Regions from separate parts of the Homo sapiens genome. Here region 2 is linked to region 1. Evidence: fine-mapped expression QTL. A gene starts in region 1. The other region holds a variant in brackets. All regions are shown on one strand. Distances are from middle to middle. Region 1 holds the start of CCDC69 (coiled-coil domain containing 69). Region 2 overlaps CCDC69 (coiled-coil domain containing 69).

Region 1 (5,371 bases):
TTTCTTTGAGAGGGAGTCTCGCTCTGTTGCCCAGGCTGGAGTTCAATGGCACAATCTAGGCTCATTGCAACCTCTGCCTCCCGGATTCAAGCAATTCTCCTGTCTCAGCCTCCTGAGTAGCTGAAACTACAGGCACACATCACCACATCCGGCTAATTTTTGTATTTTTAGTAAAGACAGGGTTTCACCATATTGGTCAGGCTGGTCTCGAACTCCTGACCTCAGGTGATCCATCCACCTCAGCCTCCCAAGGTGCTGGGATTACAGGCATGAGCCACTGTGCCTGGCCTACAAAATTTTTTTTTTTTAAATTAGCTAGGCTTGGTGGCAGGCACTTGTGGTCTCAGCTACTCGGGAGGCTCAGGTGGGAGGATCACTTAAGCCTGGAAGACTGAGGCTGCAGTGAGCCATGATCACTCCACCGCCCTCCAGCCTGGGTGATATTGCAAGATCCTGTCTCAAAAAAAAAAAAACTGTTTTAAAATTTCAAAATCTCACCAATACAGTGGTAGTCACTCAATTTTTTTTTTTAATGAAAATGAGTTTGTTATGTTTTGTAACACAAAAAATTCATCTTCATCAGTATTTTTGCTGGTTATGTGGCATTCTATTTTTATGGATATAGCATAATGTATTTAACCAACCTTCTTTTCTTGGCTGTTTAGGTTGTTTTGGGTTCTTTGTTTTTAATCATGAGCACTGTTCCAATAAACATTGTTAATTTTAGTATAATTTAAGTATATCCTGTTTCTTCAGTACCTGTGGAGCACGTCCTATGGCAGGGGTTCTCAAACTTTAGCCCAGGCCAGACATGAGTGGAGTGCTTATGAAGCCATAGATTCCTAAGCCCCATCCCCAGAGTTTAGGCCAGGGGTGGGGCCCGAGAATTTGCATTTCCAACAAAGGCGGCTGGTAGTGCTGACACTGCTGATTTGGGAATCACACTTTGTGAGCCACCATTCTCTATTATACTTGCTTTTGAGAACCTAATAACACGTTTCCTTAGTTTCCTTTCTTACACACTTTTGCAATTGGTTTTGTACCCTATGGAGGGAGCAATTTTTTTGAGGTCTCATATTCTTTCCCCATTCATGACTCTAAGCCGTTTTCACAGCACACCTTTCCAAGAGTTTTGGGCCTGACTTTAATATTCCAATATACACGCAAATAGGCATACACACTGATTTTCAAAATTGGTTATCTTTTTCCTGCATTGCCATTTCAGAAACCTCAGCTAATAACAAAGAGAAGATAAACAAAAGCTCCTTTTCCTAGACACTGACATTTTATGTCCCATAGTCACCATACCTGGCCTGCCTCAAGAGGTTGTTGTGATGAATAACATCTATCCAAGATGGATAGAGTCAAATATTACAGATGCTTGTGAGGTGGAAAAAACTATCAGCCCAGAAGTGAGGAGGCATTAAAATTAAACTTAGTATTATTGGCCAGGTGTGGGATCCCAGGACTTTGGGAGGCCGAAGCGGGCGGATTACCTGAGGTTGGGAGTTTGAGATCAGCCTGGTCAAAATGGTGAAACTCTGTCTCTACTAAAAATACAAAAATTAGTTGGGTGTCGTGGTGCATGCCTGTAATCCCAGCTACTGGGGAGGCTGAGGCAGGAGAATCACTTGAACCTGGGAGGCAGAGGTTGCAGTGAGCCAAGATCGTGCCACTGCACTCTAGCCTGGGCAATAGAGCGAGACTCTGTCTCAAAAATAAATAAATACAATAAACTTAGTATTATGATTTATTTGTAGGCCATTGAGTCAAAGTTTAGGTTCTGGAGTTAGAACTGTATTCTGTGCAGTGGCTCATGCCTGTAATCCCAACGCTTTGGGAGGCCAGGGTGGGAGGATCGCTTGAGGGCGGTCGTTCAAAATCAGACTGGAAAAAAGAAAAGAATTTGGTTGGGTATGGTGGTGAGCCTCTGTAGTCCCAGCTACTCAGGAGGCTGAGCTGGGAGGCTCGCTTGAGCCCAGGAGTTTGAGGCTGCAGTGAACTATGATAGCGGCAAAAAAAAAAAAAAAAAAGGAACTGGATTCTATCTGGGCTGTGGTAACTTACTAGCCATGTGACCTTAGGCAAATCATGTTGCATCTCTGAACACCATTTTCCTCACCTGTAAAATGGAGGAAGTAATACCTTTGTTGCACTGATATGGCAAGAAATAGAAATAAAATGTATAAAACAACTGGGACAAAAACAGCCCTCAATGAATGATAGTTGTTAGTTTATCAAATAATTGCTTTAATTATTTTTTCCCCCGGCCCTTTCTTAGCTGAGGGTTCGGAAAAGCATCTGTTGCTCCTTGAGGTTTTCTTTTCTTCTGCCCTGACCAGAGCTTCCTATTATTTAGAAGGATTCTGGTCACCTGCCTCTGGTGGCGGCGCCGCTGGCCCTGCGGGCTACACTGAGGCCCCGCTCTTCGGGTATTTACGGCGGGCGGCCGCCCCAGCTCAGGCTCAAGACAGCGCTTCCAGGTTCAGTTTCAGGGTCTCGCCGGCAGCCCCAGCCGGCGGGCGCGGAGCGGGCAGCGGGGCCCGGATCGCAGGCTCCTCTGGGGGCCCCGGAGTTGGGAAGCGGCGTCCGGGAGCCCCCGGAGGAGGATGGGCTGCAGACACAGCAGGCTGAGCAGCTGCAAACCCCCGAAAAAGGTAAAGGGCGCCGGCGGAGAAGTTTGCTTTCAGAGGAGAGGGGAGTGCGGAATCGCTCCGCCGCAGAGGACTCGGCGCCCCGGGCTCTCTCTGGTCGGCCCGGGATACCGGACGGAGAACCTGGAGAGGCCAGCTCAGAGACGAGGGAGGCTCTGCTGGGAGGCGCCCTTTACCCCGGCCCGAGCCGCACCAAGCAGCCGAGTTTACAAACACGGCACCCGGGCCAGGGAAAGGCAGCTGATTCCCGCTGCCTCGGGTGGGGAGATGTCGTGTGTCTGTGGCAGGTGCCCTCTGCTTTCGGTCTGGGGCTGTTCGCTGTGTGGCCATGGACAAGTGACTTGACCTCTCTGGGCCTTCGGCTTCCTCCCCCCGGGGGTTAAAGGCTGATAATCTCAGGGCTGCTCGAAGAGTGTTCCACAGACTCGCAGTATCAGCATCCCTGGGGACCTGTCAGAAATGCAGAATCTCAGGCTCAGGCCCAGTCTTGCCAAGACAGAAGCTGCCTTTTAACAATATGCCCAGGTGATGACGCTTTAAAGTTTGAGGCGCTGGTCTTAGGGCTCTTGCAGGCCCCAGAGCTGGTGAGTGTGGGCTGCCCTTGGGGTAGCTGGGAGGGGCCAAAGAGGGAGGAGATCTACTGCGTTCTGTGGCCCTCTCCTCCCTTCCTGTCCTTCCCCCAAGGGGCCTTGGAGCTGGGTCAGGGCCCAGGGGACAATTCTCAGGTTTCTTGCAGTGAGACCAGCTGCCCCTTGGGGTCTGACGAGCCCAGAAGGTCAGAGCCTGGAGCTAGAAAGATAGCCTCCTCAGGGGACACTGTGAGGCAGAGGGGAAGAAGGACCCTCAAATTCTGGCCCCTTTTCTTACCACTACCTGCCCCCTAGCCAGGTGGGACTAGGTGATCCCTTAAACTTTATCATCATTCCCCCTTGAGACCTTGAGAGGCCCCAAACTGTGACAGTGTTTAATAGTTTTGCAATGAACTTTAGTCCTCCCTCTGCTCCTGCTTTGCTTGTGCCCTGAGTACAGGTTTTTCTGCCTAACAGTAGTCCTAGCCTGGAGGATTCTACTCCCTTCTCTGACACCTCCTGGCTTTCCTTGCTCTCCCTTTATTACCAGATTGAAATTCTCACCAACTCCTGACCTAGAAACCCTCATGTCTTTACTCACTCCAACAGGGAAACTGAGGCTTGGCTCTATCAGTAGAAGGAAGGGGCTGGCTGACAGGGATGACAAGGCGGAGAGACCTGAGCCTTGGCTGAGACTTGTAACTGAGCAAGTGGTAGGCAGACATTAGCCCTGGGTGTAAGTCCTGGTGGTGCCATAAACATACTGGGTGACCCCAAGCAAGCCCTTGTGTCTCCCTGGGTCTCAGTTTCTCCCTGTATGGGGAGTGATGAGCAGGATGATCCCTAAGCATCTGAGAGTCTGTGTTCTCTGCACCTGTGTCAACCTTGTAGCTTGCAAAGTGGACCAAGGGTGAATTCCATCTACCTAGAGGTGGAGGAAACGGGGAAGAGCCTGACCCTTCCACAAGCTGGAAGAGGAGGTCACAGTAAGCACAGGTTCTTTGGCTCCTGCTCCTTCTGAGAGACTTACCAGCTGTTCCTGCCTGTCCCTGGCACAGCCAAAGCTCTGAAGGGCAAGTAAAGCTGGCACAGCCTGTCTGAGTTGGAAAGGGCCTTTGGGTACTACCTGGGCTGACGCACCCACTATACAGATAGGAGGTTAAGGCCTAGAAAAGGGAAGGAGCATGACTGAGGTCACAGAGCAACACAGAGCAGAACCCAGGTATCTAGTCCCCTAGCTCCGTGTTCTTTGTCTCCACCTCCTCCCGCTGTGCTTCCAGTGGCTTCTTGATGACTTTAGCGTAAAATCTTTTACTCCTGTTGCCTCAGAGAACAGCCTGGCATGCCTTCTTGGCCCCAGCCATGCCAGGCCCCTGCCCCTATATGGCAAGATTTATGGGCTGTTTTTGTTTAAAGTTCTCATCCCTGTAGGCTGTGCTCCTGCCCAATTTCTCACCCAGGTGCCAACCCCTTGGAAGGCATGAGCTCCCAAGTTCATCCCCAACAGGCTACCAGCCCCCTGGGAGAGAGGGGGACTCCAGGGATGGGATGGACAAAAATGAGCTCAGGCTACAGAGGGGTTAGGTTCTGATAACCATGACTCACCCTGAGTGTTTACAGCATGCTTTCACATCCCGCCCAGTCTCACAGAAGCCCTGGAAGTTAGGCTGAGCTGCAGAATCTTTCCCACTTTACCGGGGAAACTGAGGCTCAGTGAGGAACGATGGGTCCAAAGTCACACAGCCAGTTGGTGGCAAAGCTGTGCAGTTGAGCCTGGCTTTCTGCACTCCCCATCTGGTGCTCATTGCCTTATACAGATCATGGAGCAGGTGCTTAAGTAGATATTTGAGTGAATGAGGGACAAATAAGAGCCATGCTAGGGGTTGGCCCAGGGAGCAGTAGGAGCATCACATCTAGCCTTGAGAGATGCAGGAAGGGTTTTTGAGGAAGGGTGGTTTGGAAGGTATGGCAGGAGTTACCCACTCATGGCCAAGGCCTAAGCAAAGGCTGAGCCACTGAAAGCACAGCGTGAGGGGGTTCTTTGTGGAGAATGGAGGTGGCAGGCAGCAAGGAATGAGGCAGGCACTTTTAGAAAGGATTATCCTGGCTAGGGACAGGAGCTTGACCATGAGGCCTTCTCATGTCCCT
Region 2 (5,371 bases), 40 kb after region 1:
CAAAATGAAGAGGGTGGAGGAGTCCATTCTGAGCCGAAACTATAAGAAACATATCCAGGTAGGTGGCAGCACCCTGGGCGCTTTTCCTCCTTGAATCTCCAGGGAGGTCAGGGCCGGGCAACAGGAAAGACCAGCCCCTCTTCAAGGACAAGACTCAGACCTGGCACTCTTACCTACACAAGGGCCTGGAAATAAAAGAGTTCCCATTTCACCGATGGGAAAATTAAGGCCCAGAGAGCAGCATCTGGAATAGTAAAGTGCTCACGTTCTGGATTCAGAGAGAACTAGGTGCACATAGCAAACCTGCCACTTAGCACAAGTGACTCAACCTGTCCGAACCACAGTCTCCTCATCTGTGGTGCTAGCACATGTCTCAAAAGGTGATATTCGGATACAGGGAGATAAAGCATATTAAACACTTAACATGGGCTGAGAGAGGAAGGTGGGTGACTTGTGAAAGTCCAACAATGAGTTGCTGGCAGAATGGGGAGGAGGGAGGTAGCCTACTGGCCTAATGAGGTCACTCTGTCCCTGTCTAGGATTATGGGAGCCCCAGCCAGTTCTGGGAGCAGGAGCTGGAGAGCTTACACTTTGTCATCGAGATGAAGAATGAGCGTATTCATGAGCTGGACAGGCGGCTGATCCTCATGGAAACAGTGGTCTGTGACTGGGAGTGGCTGGGGGATGCAGCCTCAGGCTCCCGCTTTCTGGGTGTTTCCTTTGTAAAGCATGCAGAGGGGAGGTGGTTTGAGGAGGTCCCAGCCTAGTTCACTCCAGCTTTGACCTGCCACCTGTGCTGACCACTGAGCATGGTCTGTGGCCAGGCTGGGTCAAGCAGTGGCTCCTTATCATCTGAGTCCTGTGCCTTTTGAGGCTACTGATGTTGCTGTAGCTTGGGTGACACTAGGGCAGGTAGCATTGAGAACACGGGAGGACAGAAGCCTCAGAAACCCTAGGGTTGAATCTAAGCAGAGATTATGTTGCTGTAGAAGTCTCCCTGGCCTCCTGTGTGCCTTACAACTTATAATTAAAAAAATAAAACTAAGGAGTTAACAAAAAGCTGCTGACTTTTAATTTTGCCACATGAGAATGTTTAAAAAAAAAGTCTTACAGGCACTACCATCTCATGTCACCATCCGTTCTTTTCTCAGGAAGGAAAGAGGGTAGGAGGGAGATGGGGAGCCAGGGTGTGTGCCCAGGGAGCCCTGGGGGCTTGAGTCACGTGACATGGAATCACCCACAGGGCTTTATTTTAATCAGATCATCTCAAACATTCCGTATAGATTTTGTTCGCTCATTTTTGTGGAAACACATAACAGACAAACTTAATTTTATTTATATAGATCATATCCTTCTGACTTTTGGAGAACAAAACATATTCTTTCTTCCATGAACTCATGGTGAAATGAGATGGTAGGGCCTGTAATTTTTTTTTACCATTCTCCTGTGGCAAAAAGCCGCAGCCCTTTGTTAACTTTTTAGTTTTACTTTTTTCTAAGTTACCTTATTGCTCCATGAAATGTAACATCTAGTCTAGAATGAATCAGTGCTTTCAGTGACCACAGATAAGAGGGAGGTGACAGCACACATCGTGCAGCGTGAGTTTGGCAGCTTTCTGAGCTCATTCTCATTGTTATAGAAAGAGAAAAATCTGATATTGGAGGAAAAAATTACGACCCTGCAACAGGAAAATGAGGACCTCCATGTCCGAAGCCGCAACCAGGTGGTCCTGTCAAGGTAGCTGTCTTCCTGCCTCCTTTACTCCCATCCCCACCCTTTTTGCCAAAATTCCCAGCTGGGAGAGTCTTAGAGGGGCCTGAGGAATGGACTGACAGGTGGGCCCAGGGCCTATTTAGGGAATGTGGCTCCTCTTTCCCTGGGAGTCAAGAAACCCAAGGGGGCAGTTCTGCTCAGAAACCAAAGTCCCAATGCCTTGATTAGTATCTGTTTGTCTCTGTCCTGGCTGAGTGTACTCTGTGGGAAAGCCCAATATAGGGAGGAGGAAACAGGAAATTTATAGTGCACCAGGCCTAAGTGGAATGAATCAGTTCTTAGGGCTTAGTAAATAAGAGCTAGTATCATGTGTCAGACATAATTTATTGAATACTGTACATATTTTCTCATCTAATCCTCATAATTACTCTAAGAGCTGGGTCCTATTCTTCTTCTTCCCATTTTACAAATGAGAAGACTGAAATTTAAGAAGAATGAATAACTTATTCAAGATTATATAGCTAAGTGGTAGAGCAGAGATTTGAAGCAGCTCAGAACTGCCTGCCTGTCTGTGAGGCCCCCGCTCCTTGGTCAACAGATTGAATTGCCTCTTGTATACAGGCCAA[C/A]AAGGAGGGCAGTGGGGACCCTGCAGCAGGCTGCTGGTCCATCTAAGGAAGGCTTCCTGGGGGAATGGGTTGGTCTCTGTGGCAGCTGCTCCCAGTAGGCAACCCTGGGCTCTGTGTGCATCCACAGGCAGCTGTCAGAAGACCTGCTTCTCACGCGTGAGGCCCTGGAGAAGGAGGTGCAGCTGCGGCGACAGCTCCAGCAGGAGAAGGAGGAGCTGTTGTACCGGGTCCTTGGGGCCAATGCCTCGCCTGCCTTCCCTCTGGCCCCTGTCACTCCCACTGAGGTCTCTTTCCTCGCCACATAGGGTGCAGGGCCTGGGCCCACCACGACGCCTGAAGTCACAGCTCCTTCCAAGGTTTTTCTGGAGAAGACAGCAGGAGCCTCTCAGTTCTTTTCCAGGAAGGAACGAGGGTGGGAGCGAGATGGAGATCCTGGGTGTGTGCCCAGTGAGCCCTGGGGCCTTGAGTTACATGGAATCACCCACAGGGTTTTGGAGGCCCCGAGAAGCGTCTTCCCTTGAGTTGGCCAAGGGAATAAGCAAGAGGAGACATTTCCTCCCTGCCCCAGCACTCTGTCCCAATCCGAGAAGTTCCGAGGCTTTCCCAGGGGCAGTCTGTGTCACGCTGGCCATTTGACATAAAGGAGACAGCCCCTGGTCCCAGCTTGTCAGCTCTGCTGCCGACTTGCTGACTTATCAACTTCCTCTAGGTGTTTCCACTCCACCCTGGCCTGCTCAGAGCCTCAGTTTACCCCTGCATTAAAATGGTGGGGGGACTGGTCAAAGGACTCTTATGTCACTGCAGTGTCCCATTCTAGGATTGTCTGAAGGCCAGAGTAGGGGTTGGGGGGAGTGTGGACAAACCCCGCAAATCAGAGTGGGGAAGGTGAGTGGTAGAGAGGGGGTCTCTGAAGGCCCTTGGGGCTGACAGGGCCAGGCAGCCTCCCCAGCTGAGGCATCATTCCTGGGCCAGAGTCGTGTCCACCAAGGGACAGTAGCCAGAGCTCCTCTTCCTTTACCAGGCAAGGTGCATCCCCTCAGCCCTCCTGGCCCTTCAGTCTTGGTGCCACCTGGGCACAGGGGCAAGCTTGGTGGTTGTGAGTCCATTCATCTATCAGAGCTGGAACCTCATCCCTGCACAGATGAGGAAACCAAGGCATGGAGCAGTTCCCAGAGTCGAATCTAGATCTCATCTGTCATCCGGGTCTTATCCTTTGCTCTGTTTTTCTCTTCAGGCTCTGGAAAATCAGATCTGTGACTTAATCTTCCTCTCCCTGGCCCTCACCCACTTAGTTTCTTTTTCATTCCTGCTCCCTGCCTTAACTCCTCCTCCCACTGCCCCTGATCCCAGGCCCAGGCTTTTACAACCTGGTGCTCAGCTTCCCCATCAGTGAAAAGGGGTGGCTAGAGTAACTAACCTCAGCAGGCCGTCCAGTCCTGATAGTCTGTGGATTTCGGATCCTTCTCAGGAAGCTTCATGTCTAATGGAGACTATAATTATAACTCCTGTTCTGCATAGAGCATTTGCATCAAAGGCTTTCCATACCCCTCCCTCCCCTGGTCCTCATAAGATCCTTGAAGCAGGTTCCTATTCCTCATTGGCAACATGGCAAACAGATCACAGGAGTCAAAGGGCCTTGCTCAAGGTCCCCAGCTTCAGCCCCAGGCCCTAAGCCAGCGTCAGAACAGTCAATCTGCATTTTTCATCAGTCATTCTATAGTGACATCATCCCAGACTGCCTTCTGTATTCCCCTGTGTACAGTCTCCTTCTGTTTCTAGGTTTAGAAGTTCAGAGGTGACTGTGTTTCTCCATTTCCACAGCCAAATGGGGGAAGAGGTGAGGCTAGGGGAGTGCTGTGCTGATTCTCCAGCCATGGTCAGACAGGTCACCCAGGAGCCTCGAGGAAAGCCCTGGAGGGAATCACATGTGTACTTTTTCATGAAGCTTTTTGCAAAGCACATCTGCGATACACTAGTTTATTGAACTAATGTCCAGGAGTAGACATGATTGGTGGCCAAGTTATTTGGGGACACCTAAACAGATCAGTGACCTGAATGACTTCTCAGAACCTTTAATATGCCAATGTGTGTGGCAAACTTACAAGAAGGGAGCTAAGTATCCAGCCTCTCCCAAACCTCTTTGAACAAAGCTTCTGTCCCTCCCACACCTCTCACCTCACAGGCACATCAGGCTGCAGAATGCGCTTTAGAAAGCATTGTTTTAGTCCAGGCACAGTGGCTCACGCCTGTAATCCCAGCACTTTGGGAGGCCGAGGTGGGTGGATCACAAGGTTGGGAGATTGAGACCATCCTGGCTAACACAGTGAAACCCTGTCTCTACTAAAAAAATACAAAAAATTAGCTTGGCGTGGTGGTGGGCGCCTGTAGTCCCAGCAGCTTGGGAGGCTGAGGCTGGAGAATGGTGTGAACCCAGGAGGCGGAGCTTGCAGTGAGCCAAGATCGCGCCACTGCACTCCAGCCCGGGTGACAGAGCAAGACTCCGTCTCAAAAAAAAGAAAAGAAAAAAGAAAGCATTGTTTTAATTGAGAGGGGCAGGGCTGGAGAAGGAGCAAGTTGTGGGGAGCCAGGCTTCCCTCACGCAGCCTGTGGTGGATGTGGGAAGGAGATCAACTTCTCCTCACTCTGGGACAGACGATGTATGGAAACTAAAAAGAACATGCGGCACCTTATTTATGTGACTTTTGTGTTTTTCTGGGAGGGTGGGGAGGTGGGTCTTCACAAGGACTTCTGCCAATGGTGGGGATCTCTGAAGAGTAAATCTGGGGCCTGGGTAGCCCACTCGTGGTTCTGGGCACTCTCCTCAAGCACCAAAGCCCCACTGGCCCTTGCTTTGCCCTAATTGTGGATGTGGGGCCTGGGGCTAGGGTGAAGCCTGGATTAAAGGATGGCCTTCAAAATAGACCAAGGCTTGGAGTGAGGCTGAGGTTGAAGTAAGTGGTGAAAACAGAGGGATGGGGTGGGAGAGACTGCGAGGATGAATGAGAAGTCACCTTCTGCACTGCAGGACCCCT

Evidence for each region.
Region 2: its variant is fine-mapped to the expression of CCDC69 in whole blood (INTERVAL, PIP above 0.99).

The regions. Positions count from the first base shown.
Region 1 is chr5:151,221,209-151,226,579 of GRCh38, reverse strand. CCDC69 (coiled-coil domain containing 69) reads left to right here and starts at 2,488. Exons shown (of 9, transcript NM_015621.3): 1 at 2,488-2,657. The coding sequence starts at 2,610. LOC105378230 (a long non-coding RNA gene) reads right to left here. Exons shown (of 4, transcript NR_160730.1): 4 at 2,230-3,104. RefSeq lists silencers at 758-1,052, 2,536-2,615 and enhancers at 2,736-2,935, 2,956-3,065, 4,486-4,705.
Region 2 is chr5:151,180,710-151,186,080 of GRCh38, reverse strand. It overlaps CCDC69 (coiled-coil domain containing 69), which reads left to right. Exons shown (of 9, transcript NM_015621.3): 6 at 1-58; 7 at 540-659; 8 at 1,640-1,737; 9 at 2,467-5,029. The coding sequence ends at 2,644. Among named protein-coding and RNA genes, the nearest start is that of ANXA6, 26 kb to the right of the region's middle. The variant C/A (reference allele first, on the strand shown) is at 2,340.